Linked DNA regions of Homo sapiens. The protein of the gene in region 2 interacts with the protein of the main gene of each other region in a pairwise test. Each region holds a gene or a part of one and is shown on either strand. Other genes may lie near its edges. The genes, in order: PALLD and HOMER2.

Region 1 (7,300 bases), on a different chromosome or scaffold from region 2:
TCTGAAAGAGTAAAGGCTGTTCCAAAATCTTGTTCTGGTTTGTTAGAGCAAGATAACTAAACTGTAGGAAAAAATAATTATTTTACAGCTGCAGAACTGTAGAGTACCTAAATAGATTTGGTAAAATATATAGATAAGATGTTTTCTCCACTGGATTTAAGTCTTTCCTCATCAGTTTTTGTTTGTTTTTTCATCTCTTTTGTTGATGCTATCCTTTTAAAATACTCTTTTCTTTTTAAAATACTATTTCCAGAATATTTTAAGGGGATGGGAAAAGCAAATCTAGAAAATAAGACTTACCAGGTAAAGGAGAGGAACCTTCTGTAGCTTTATTAAGGAATTGTCACTGGAAAAATTTGCCTGGCTCTTAAGTACAAGACAAGGATCTTTTTGTATAAAATCTCCCTTTCAGACACCTTTTTCAGAGTAGAAAGCTCTCTATAATTATGTTTTCTGAGAATTTTAATTATCAAACATTGATAAGTAAAACTGTGAGAACAGACCACACTTGAAAGCTGGAGAGCAGAGGAGGGGTGCTGAATGCTGATTTTAGTTTATTAGGGTATCTTAATCTGATTAAGAAAGATTAAAATTTCAATGAAGTTTTGTGTTAGTTACTCATTTCACTGAGTATAGAAGATTTTCACAAGAGGAAAATATTTTCTCCCTGAAATAAGTGATTGCATGTGTAAATGTACATACTCTGGAAGTTTTCCCTGGCTCTGTCAACTAAATCTTTTAAAAGATTAAAATAAATACATATGGGAACTTTTTCAAGCCAGGTAAGGCATCACTCCAGCTTTTTTTTTTTTCTTTTTGGCTGTCTATGTCAATGTTCCTTATGAACTAAGATTCTCTTGGTTAAGGTAAGACTTCCTTAAGCTATTGGTCAACCCACATTATATATATTGTATGTATATTTATATTCATCTGTTTAGCAGTGAATAACATTCACAGTAAGTTCCACAGGTATCCACACTTGAGAGCTTAAAATGACAAGTAAGGTTTCCCTTTTTAGAAAATGGGATTCTCAACCAACTTTTTCCTAATATTATATATCATTCTCTTTCTTATCTTTGGTGTCTGTAGACACGGGCTTTTATAGCCAGATGGCATAGTGACTTAGAAAAAAAACTGTGAAGTATATTTGGCTTCTAGTGGTAGCAGGTGCATTCTGGTGAAGGAATAGATATGAAATTGATATTTCTGCTTATAAGGAACAGAGTGAAAATCACTCCAGGCCTGCCTTTGATGTGTTACAATTCTCCGTGAAAAGATTAGGGAAGCTTTTTAAGAGATCAGGTATTTAAGACTCTCTTTGAAAATTGAATTCACTGATTTTTTAATAGGTGTGAGAAAATTAATTTAATAACATAGTGGACTCAGATGCTTCATGCCGCCCTCAGACTCCTACCTCTGCCTCTTCTTGTCCTCTGACCTTTCTTTATTAAGTGAAATAATTTGAACTGCAGGACTATTTGTCATTTGGCACTTGACTTGTTTCACTTCCCGGTTTCAGCTGGGATTGAGATCAGCAATTACTGGAAATTGTAAATTTACCCAACATATTTTCCTGATTAGAGAGCTTCCAATCAAATTTGCATTTATATTTAGAAGTTTGGAAGTTTATCTGAAATAATTTCTGTACATTTTTTAGATTCTGCCTTACCAATTATTCTCTATTTCTAATCAAACACTTGCTTATAAAATGCTCCCGATGAGGCAGGTGGTATCTGAAAGTTCCTTCCAAACCTGTAAGTCTAAGGCACTTTAGAATGAGTATTCAAGAGCAGGTATCACCCCAACAGTCACACAAAAATGCCGGCATTTCTTATGTATAAGAATGGCATAGGTAAAACGGTTTGGGCCAATTCCAAAGTGCTAGCTGCGAGATGCAAGAACACTACCACTTTCTTTGCCTGATGGGCAAGCAGTCTGCTTCTGGGTCAAGTCAATTGAGGCTGTTAGCTTTGGCAAGTGTCTTGTGTAATCCTGTTGCTAATTCAGCCATGTGCATCATTCTCTGTGGATTATAATAGTTGCCGCCAATCCCCTACATTACACAGCAGCCTGGGAAATGCTCTTAGAGGTAAGAACCCCATCACTGCCAGCTCATCCACATCTTCCTTTAGCTAAACATTTACTGAGCACATACTGTTAAATGACTGATAGAATTATTTCCATTAGCGATACCTGTTCTTTTTTTAGTCAGTTTATTCTCCTTTTGAGTATCTTTGTTTTTTCTTTCAGTCAGTATTAGAGCTGACTTGGGTGTTCTGAAGCTGATGGATGGCTATAAAAATAACATTTCTTTTAAATTGTATTTTGCTGTTTAAATATCTTTTTTTCCATGTTTTTCATTAAGGACATGACAAATCTTTTCTGTGTGGTTTCTTCCTTGTCGCTTATTGCTCACTTTAAATTTGTGCTGTACCAATTGGTGGCTCTCTGGATTAGGCCATTAGTACTAGAAAGGGAGGTAAAAAGGTAGAACAACTGAAGCAAGAAAAAGAAATATGCAGGTATCTGAAGCTGGAGAGAGAACACTTACAGAAAATCATGAAAGTGTGTTGTTTTTTACTCTTTTTCATAGGGCAGTACATATTTGTGATTTTTTTCTAATTTTGTATTTTTTGTGACTTACGTTGTTTAGAGGTTAACATACGAAGAAAGAATGGCTCGTCGACTGCTAGGTGCTGACAGTGCAACTGTCTTTAATATTCAGGAGCCAGAAGAGGAAACAGCTAATCAGGTACCATGTTGCTCTGGACTTCTTAGGGTAACATTTATTCTGTCCCCCTTTTCCATCTTCCTTATGGATACTGTTCTTGGGATGAGTTCTGTGGAAAGTAGAGGGCAAGTCACAGAAAAGCAGTATTAATATCATCAGTCAACCTCACAGCTAATTTTTATTGAGCACATACTATGTTAAGTGACTGACAGAATTCTTTCCATCAGTGATACCTGTTCTTTTTATTCTTCTTCTTGATTATTCTCCTTTCCAGTACATTTCCATTTTCCTATCCTAAGTTTTATGCAAAATAATTTTGTGTGGAGAAACACATTTTCGCCGACATTGTCTGAAATAACTAGTGAATATTTCCCATTAGAGTTGGACCTTGAACAACACGGGAGTTAGGGGGACCAACCCCAAGCACAGTTAAAAACCCACATATGGCCGGGCACAGTGGCTCATGCCTGTAATTGTAGCACTTTGGGAGGCTGAGGTGGGTGGATCACGAGGTCAGGAGATCGAGACCATCGTGGCCAACATGGTGAAACCCCGTCTCTACTAAAAATACAAAAATTAGCCAGGTGTGGTGACGCACACCTGTAGTCCCAGCTACTCGGGAAGCTGAGGCAGGAGAATTGCTTGAACCCGGGAGGTGGAGGTTGCAGTGAGCTGAGGTTGTACCACTGCACTCCAGCCTGGCAGCAGAGTGAGACTTCGTCTCCAAAACAAAACAAAACTAAAAACACATATACGACTTTTGACTCTTCAAAAACTTAACTAACAGCCTACTGTTGACCAGAAGCCTTACTGATAACAAAGAGTTGATTAACACGTATTCTGTATGTTATATGTATTATAGACTGTAGTCTTAAAGTAAGCTAGAGAAAAGAAAATGTTACAAAGAACATCTTAAGGAATAGAAGATACATTTACAATTCATTAAGTGGAAGTGGGTCATCATAAAGGTCTTCATCCTCATTGTCTTAAATTAGAGTGGTCTGAAGAGAAGAAGACAAGGGGTTGGTCTTGCTTATCTCAGGGGTTGCAGAAGCGGAAGAAAATCCATATATAAGTGGACCCATGCAGTTCAAACCTGTGTTGTTCAAAGATCAACTGTTTAGTCTTAATATCTAGTCAAAATAAAATAGAAAATATTATCTCTTTATCTTCTTTCACATATATACAGATGTTCTTCAACTTAGTATGGGGTTATGTCCTGATAAACTCATTATAAGTTGAAAATATTGTAAGTTGAAAGTGCATTTAAGGCGGGGCGCAGTGGCTTACGCCTGTGATCCCAGCACTTTGGGAGGCCAAGACCGGGTGGATTACCTGAGGTCAGGAGTTCAAGACCAGCCTGACCAACATGGTGAAACCCCGTCTCTACTGAAAATACAAAAATTAGCCGGGTGTGGTGGCGTGCGCCTGTAGTCCCAGCTACGCGGGAGGCTGAGACATGAGAATCGCTTGAACCCAGGAGACAGAGGTTACAGTGAGCCAAGATCGTGCCACTGCACTCCAGCCAGGTGACAGAGCGAGACTCCATCTCAAAAAAAAAAAAAAAAGTGCATTTAATACACCTAACCTACTGAACATCTTAGGTTAGCCTAGTCTATCTTAAATGTGCTCACAACACTTACATTAGCTTACAGTTGGGCAAAATCATCTAACACAAAGCCTATTTAAAATAAAGTATTGAATATCTCATGTGATTTATGGAGTCCTGTACCAAAAGTGAGAAGCAGAATGGTTGTGTGAGTACTCACAGCACCGTTACTACCAAACGCATATTGCTAGCACAAAAGTTTCACTTAAGGAAAATTAGAAATCTTGCTGCATTCTTATTATTTCTATTATTAGTCTTCACATCTTTTTTTCTACCATTACAGGACATTGGTTCTCCTCATGCTTCTGTAGGGAGTCCTCTGGATGGTCAAAAGGTTAAGCTTTTCACCTTTCTTCTCCTTCCAGTCTTTCTCTGTGTCTGTTTTCTTCTGTTCTTCCTGTTTTACGTGTGTTTCTATCTTTTCTGCCATATATTAATTATAAATGCTATGACCAGTGTCTGTTTCATTTAATATCAGATACACAAAATTACTGCAACATGAGTTTTCTTGTCATGTATTTACCAGCTTGAATTTATTTATTTATTTTTACTTTATGTATTTATTTATTTATTTATTTATTTTGAGATGGAGTTTCGCTCTTGTTGCCCAGGCTGGAGTGCAATGGTGTGATCTTGGCTCACTGCAACCTCTGTCTCCTGGGTTCAAGCGATTCTCCTGCCTCAGCCTCCCAAGTAGCTGGGATTACAAGTGCATGCCAACATGCCTGGCTAATTTTGTATTTTTAGCAGAGATGGGGTTTCACCATGTTGGTCAGGCTGGTCTCGAACTTCTGACCTCAGGTGATCCACCCGCCTTGGCTTCCCAAAGCGCTGGGAATACGGCATGAGCCACAGTGCCTGGCCTCTGACTTGAATTTAATTCTGTCATTAGTGGATACTCTGAACATTAAATCAAGAAAAATTTTTCATTTGTTATATATACCTTTCTATGGGGAACAAAAGTGCTAATTCTTCAAGGGATTAATTTGATAGTAATTAGATGAAGCAAAACAACTTGTGGTATAACTCTTGCAGTTTTATTCATACTGTTGTATTTCTTCCCTCAAACCAACAAACTTGTTTTTTAAACACTGAGTAACTTCTTTAAGAGAAAACATAGTTAAAGTTATCTTTCATTTAATATTAAATAGGGAATATTTACATAGACTCCCTTGTCTTCATTGCACTTTTTTGTTTTGGAGACAGGGTCTCACTCTTTTGCCCAGGCTTGAGTGCAGTGGCACAATCACGGCCCACTGCAGCCTCGACTTCCCAGGCTCAAGTGATCCTCCCACCTCAGCCTCCCAAGTAGCTGGGACAACAGGCATGTACCACCATGCCCAGCTACTGTTCTTTTTAAATTTTTTGTAGAGATGGGGTCTCACTTTGTTGCCCAAGCTGGTCTCAAACTCCTGGCCAGAAGCAATCCTCCCACCTCGGCCTTCCAAAGTGTTGGGAATTACAGGCATGAGCCACTGTACCTGGCCTTTAATGCACTTTGTAGGCAAGGAAATTGTAGGATCCACCGTAATCACCACAGGAATGTTGATGGGTTGTTTTTTTTTTTTAAAGCAAAATTTTGGCTAGACTGTCAGTCCTATTTTTTCTTCTAAAGATGGTGGGTTCCTAACAGCTGCAGAGCTGAGGAGGCGGCCCTTGCAAGGCAGGGATTGTTAGAGGTGGGGGAAAAAAAACAAACATTTTTTTTTTTCTATTATTCTTTTACTATTTTTTCTATTACCATTTTTTCTAGTACCATTTTTTCTATTATTCTTTTACTATAATTGTATATAATATGGCAGCTGCTTGCCACATGTACTATGTGGAGAGATGTACCACCCTGCATCAGCTTTTACCCTACAGAAGGAAATCAGCGTTCCATTATATTTTATTGTTATCAACAGTTTAGGAATACATAGCTTTGCTTTTGCCTTTTTCTTTCCTTCCCCTTGTTTCCCCTCGCCTCAGAGAAAAGAAGGAAAAAAAAATTCATCTTTCCTACCCCCCTCTTTTTGGATGATAGGACTTGAAGACAATCTGAAATACCACATAAACTCACTTCCAGATGTTTTTTGTTTCATATGCAATTGAATTGGGCTCAGACTGTGTTTTTAAGCTGTATGGTAAAAATATCACTGTCTTCTAGGGCCTTATTGGGGGGCAGGGAGAGACGTGACACTTTGTCAGAAGGGATTGAGTCTGCTAACTTAAACTTTCCTTGATTCAGGAATACAAAGTCTCCAGCTGTGAACAGAGACTCATCAGTGAAATAGAGTACAGGCTAGAAAGGTCTCCTGTGGATGAATCAGGTGATGAAGTTCAGTATGGAGATGTGCCTGTGGAAAATGGAATGGCACCATTCTTTGAGATGAAGCTGAAACATTACAAGATCTTTGAGGGAATGCCAGTAACTTTCACATGTAGAGTGGCTGGAAATCCAAAGCCAAAGGTGAGCTGGGAGATGGAGGCTTTTTAAGAGTCATTCTCTGAGGAAAGGTTTAGCTTCCAAAACATAGCATGCCAGTAGGAGAAAGAGATACAAATGATCTTTCTCAATACCCACGATATAAAGGGTTTTAAATATTCTTAAGTTCTGGGCCATCTTCAGGAGGCATTAGAAACCAAAAAAGGTGGTGGGGGGAGTGGAGTTTGGGTTTGAAGAATAGAGAATAACTAACAGGGAGCTCTTCACACACCTATATCATTTATTCCTCGTTGTTATTCCCAAATCACAAATAACTAAACTGAGTTCTGTGAAGTGAGTTTCCAAGGTCAGAGAGCTGGTGAGTGGCCAGGCCTGCATATGAACCCAGTGCTCTGTACCATACAGACAAGTAATGCTCACCACTGGTTGTAAAAACTTCCAATCTTTAATCAAAAAACCAAGGCTGCTTATATTAATATTTACAGAGGGAGGTGGGGTGAAGAATATTGTTTAGAACGGATAATGACAAATTCTG
Region 2 (3,538 bases):
TCTCAAAGGGGTGAGGGGGCACCAAAGCCTCCCCCCTGCTCAAGGCATTTAGAGATGTGTGGGGCCAGGGATTCAAGCCATTATTGCCACACACGGGCAATCTCCCAGGGCAGGATGCCAACAGCACCCACAGGCCCGCTGGCCCCACTGAGCAGCTCTGTGAGAGAGGAGAGGTTTATGGCTGCAGTCCCTTCCCTAGGAGAAACTGAAAAAGGCAGGACGCAGAGCTGGGTGGAACACCTCTGTCATGAGGGCCAAGGCTTGTCAGCTGAGCTGCTCTCTCCCCCCGAAATGCCTGTGATTTCTTCCCAGCTGTCCAGACCCATAAGACAATCCTACCCTAGGTACCAAGCCCTGGGCAGCCCCTATACCTGGAATCCCTGGGTCACCATTCCTAGGGGAGAAGGTGATTCGAGGGTCTGGAGAGCCCCAGGGGCAGAGCATCACGGATGGGCTCCAGGGGCCTGAGACCAGCTCCTGCTGCTTCCCCTTCTCCCTCCCTGCCCCAGGGCCACCCGAGCCCCAGCTTGGGTTTGACCAGACAGTGGTATTCATGTCTGTTAACTACCCAGCACAGCAAAGATGGTGCATCATTCGACAGGGTCCCAGCTCTGCTGTGGGGTTTGATTAAAACACTAAATTCTGTGTACACATTTAATTGAACAAATATTTATTAAGCACCTACTTTGTGCCAGACATTGTGCTAGGCACCCTCACTGTGTGCTGTTCCCACAGCACAATCATCTGCTCAGAAATTAAAACCAAGAAAAGGAACACTGTTGCAACCGTACAAACTGGGGGGGCGGGGGGCAGGGGGCAGTAGCGTGGATGCAGGCAACTCCGGGCCAGAAAATGCACCCACCAGAAGCTTGTTTTCCATCTCTCAGAAAGTTTCCACTAAACAGTTGTTTTAAAGCCTCTCGATGTTGACAGAGAGGAATGTTGTTCTCTCTGTGCCCCCCGGGGCTGGTGTCTGGTGGACATTCAAATACTCTGAATGCTATTTGATAAAAGGAGCCTGATGGCTTGGTGTAAAGAATATCAATATTTGGATTACAAAATGCGTGTTTTTTCAGTTCATATGGTTGCAACAGCCCTTATGAAAGATATAAACATCCCTGCCCTGACTGCATAAATGTTGAAGGTAGACCTAGTTCTGGATTCCTGAGTCAGAATCTTCCAGTTGTCCACAACCTCACAAGGCCAGAGAAGCGAGAGGAGATTTCTATTCTGAAAAGGAGTGAGTGGACGGCACAACTGGTTTGGAAACACGACAAACTGCGCCTGCATTTACAGAAGCAATGCACACAGAAGAACGTCCTAGAGCTATCTGGTCTCGCACACACGCTTGGGACTCACGGGCGGGGCCTGGGCCTCGGCCAGCCCTAGTTATCGGTGCCCAGCTTGGAGAGCCCTCGGCGGAAGTCATGCAGGTCGTCAATCTTCCCGTCCAGCACCTCCAGGAAGCTCTTCAACTCCACCTTCAGGTGGCGCTGTCGGTATTTGCTCTCCTCAATGTCTGTCTTTAAGGAACGCACTTTGTCTTCCAGGTTTTGATTGTCTCTCTCTGCCGCCTGGCCAAGCAAAAGGGAGAAGGGTCTAGAAAACTGAGTGACGAGAGTCATCCTTCAAAACCTGCTACAGCTGAACCAACCATTCTCCATCCAATCTGAGGGCCTGGGCCAGGGCTTAAGCTGCCTAGAGACATGCTACCCCAGCACACAAGCCTGTGACCAAGACATCAGAAGGGAAGCAGCAGGCACTTCAGTGACCTCCTCCTTTCCTGCCTGCTCTCCCACAGAGGGACCAACACCCAGCCTGAAAACCCAAGACCCAACAAAGCAGGCAGAACGCAGAGTCCTGCCTGAGGGAGACCTCACACAGGGCCCAGCAGGGAAAGTCTGAAATCCCTGTCTGAGTGGCTAGCAGAGACCACATTTCAGTTCCATCCTGAGAGACAGAACAGATGGGAGAGTGGCTCGTTCCCCTGGTCCCACAGAGAGGCGTGGCCTCCTCAGCCCCAGGCCAGCCTCTGGCCCTCAGAGAGGAAGGACTGGCCATGCCAATGACTCAGGGACAGCCAGTCTGTGCACCCTCTGATGCTGTTACCATGGAGATGTTCTGTGGCGCTGGGCCCCACAAGCCTACAGAGGCACATCTAGGTAAATCACAAGCAGGTTCCCAAAGACAGGACAGCTGTGAGTCCTTAAATGAGCCATAAGCCTTTAACTCTTCATATCAAATAAGAGCTTTATGTTGAGGGAATAAACAGAGACCTTTCTGAACATGTGCACAGGAAGCAGTTACCAATTCCAGGGTCATGTAACTACATGAAGCGCCGTGTGCATATCAGAGGACCTGCAGGGAAGAGGCGCTCCGAGGTGGAGGAAGCCCTGAAAATCCTCATTTTAGTGATCAGAAATCTGAGGATAGGGAGGAAGGCCTGCCCAAGGTCAGTGCCCAAGGCCACTGGCAGGGGAGTGGCTGAAGTGGCCCCACACCCTGACCCTGGGCTCTCAGGCCGCCCCCCCGCTCCTCACCCCCACCAGGGATCTGCAAGGAAACAGTCGTCTACACTGTGGTGATGCACAGGGGCCTTCATAGAACTTGCAAAACCAAAAGACAAACGTTGCTGAGTCTGCCCCGGGGGCAGGGGTGGATGCGGTGCCATCTGGCGTGCAGTCACTGCCAGCTTTTTGTGAATAGAAAATCTCTCCTTCAGCATTCTCAGTGTGAAAGTGATAGGAAGCAGGAAAATGAGTACCATGACATTTGTGCCTTCTTGTCTGAGCCAGGATGGCTGTGCCCCCAACCCACGTACCTCTAGCTTCTCAGAGACATATTCGCACTCTGACATGAGCTGAGGTATGATTTCACTTTGTTTTCGGAGATCTTTCAGCTCCTACATGAAAAAAATTTGAGATAGAACATGAAAGCAAGTCAGATAAAATATATTCTTGAAAATCACCAATGTGTGCACGCTCGTGGAAGCAGCTTTGGGACCCTGTCCTGTTTGCATAGACAGTGATAGTGACCATGCGAATACTTCATCTCAGGGAATTTCAAGGGTGAAGTGTGTCACACGCCTTGTCACGTGAAGTCTGTACACACCACCACAAGGCAGATGTTTTTCCGATTTCTGTTTTATAAGTGGAGAAAGTGAGGCCTAGGGAGTTTGGTAACATGAGCACGGCCTCCAACATGTGTGCACTTAACTGTCTGCCCCCTAGAAAATAAATGACTGTAGGCCAGGCATGGTGGCAGTGAGTGCAGGTGGCTGGCGCCGGGAGCTGGGCTGCGGTGTGGTGGGCACGTGTGTGTGGTGCTCTCATGGCGTGTGTCTATAGTCCCAGCTACACAGGAGGCTGAGGTGGGCGGAATGCTTCAGCCCAGTTCAAGACCAGCCTGGGCAACATAATGAGACTCCATCTTAAATAAAATAAATACATTTTAAATTTTTTTAAAAAAGAAAATAAGTGGTTACATCATGGGTCTCTAGCGGCATTAATTTGGCAGCAAAACTCAACTTCTGAGGACA

The links.
Region 1: the proteins of HOMER2 (region 2) and PALLD interact in binary tests that used the Homo sapiens proteins (3 or more experiments, as listed by UniProt).

Annotation. Positions count from the first base shown.
Region 1 is NC_000004.12:168,891,926-168,899,225, forward strand, and holds part of PALLD (palladin), read left to right. Parts: intron 1-2,560; exon of another isoform or gene 2,561-2,653; coding exon 2,654-2,752; coding exon of another isoform or gene 2,753-2,840; intron 2,841-3,667; exon of another isoform or gene 3,668-3,827; intron 3,828-4,623; coding exon 4,624-4,674; intron 4,675-6,567; coding exon 6,568-6,789; intron 6,790-7,300. UniProt on the Homo sapiens protein: Cytoskeletal protein required for organization of normal actin cytoskeleton. Roles in establishing cell morphology, motility, cell adhesion and cell-extracellular matrix interactions in a variety of cell types.
Region 2 is NC_000015.10:82,848,330-82,851,867, forward strand, and holds the end of HOMER2 (homer protein homolog 2), read right to left. Parts: intron 2,903-3,538; coding exon 2,822-2,902; intron 1,575-2,821; coding exon 1,386-1,574; 3' UTR 654-1,385; downstream 1-653. UniProt on the Homo sapiens protein: Postsynaptic density scaffolding protein. Binds and cross-links cytoplasmic regions of GRM1, GRM5, ITPR1, DNM3, RYR1, RYR2, SHANK1 and SHANK3.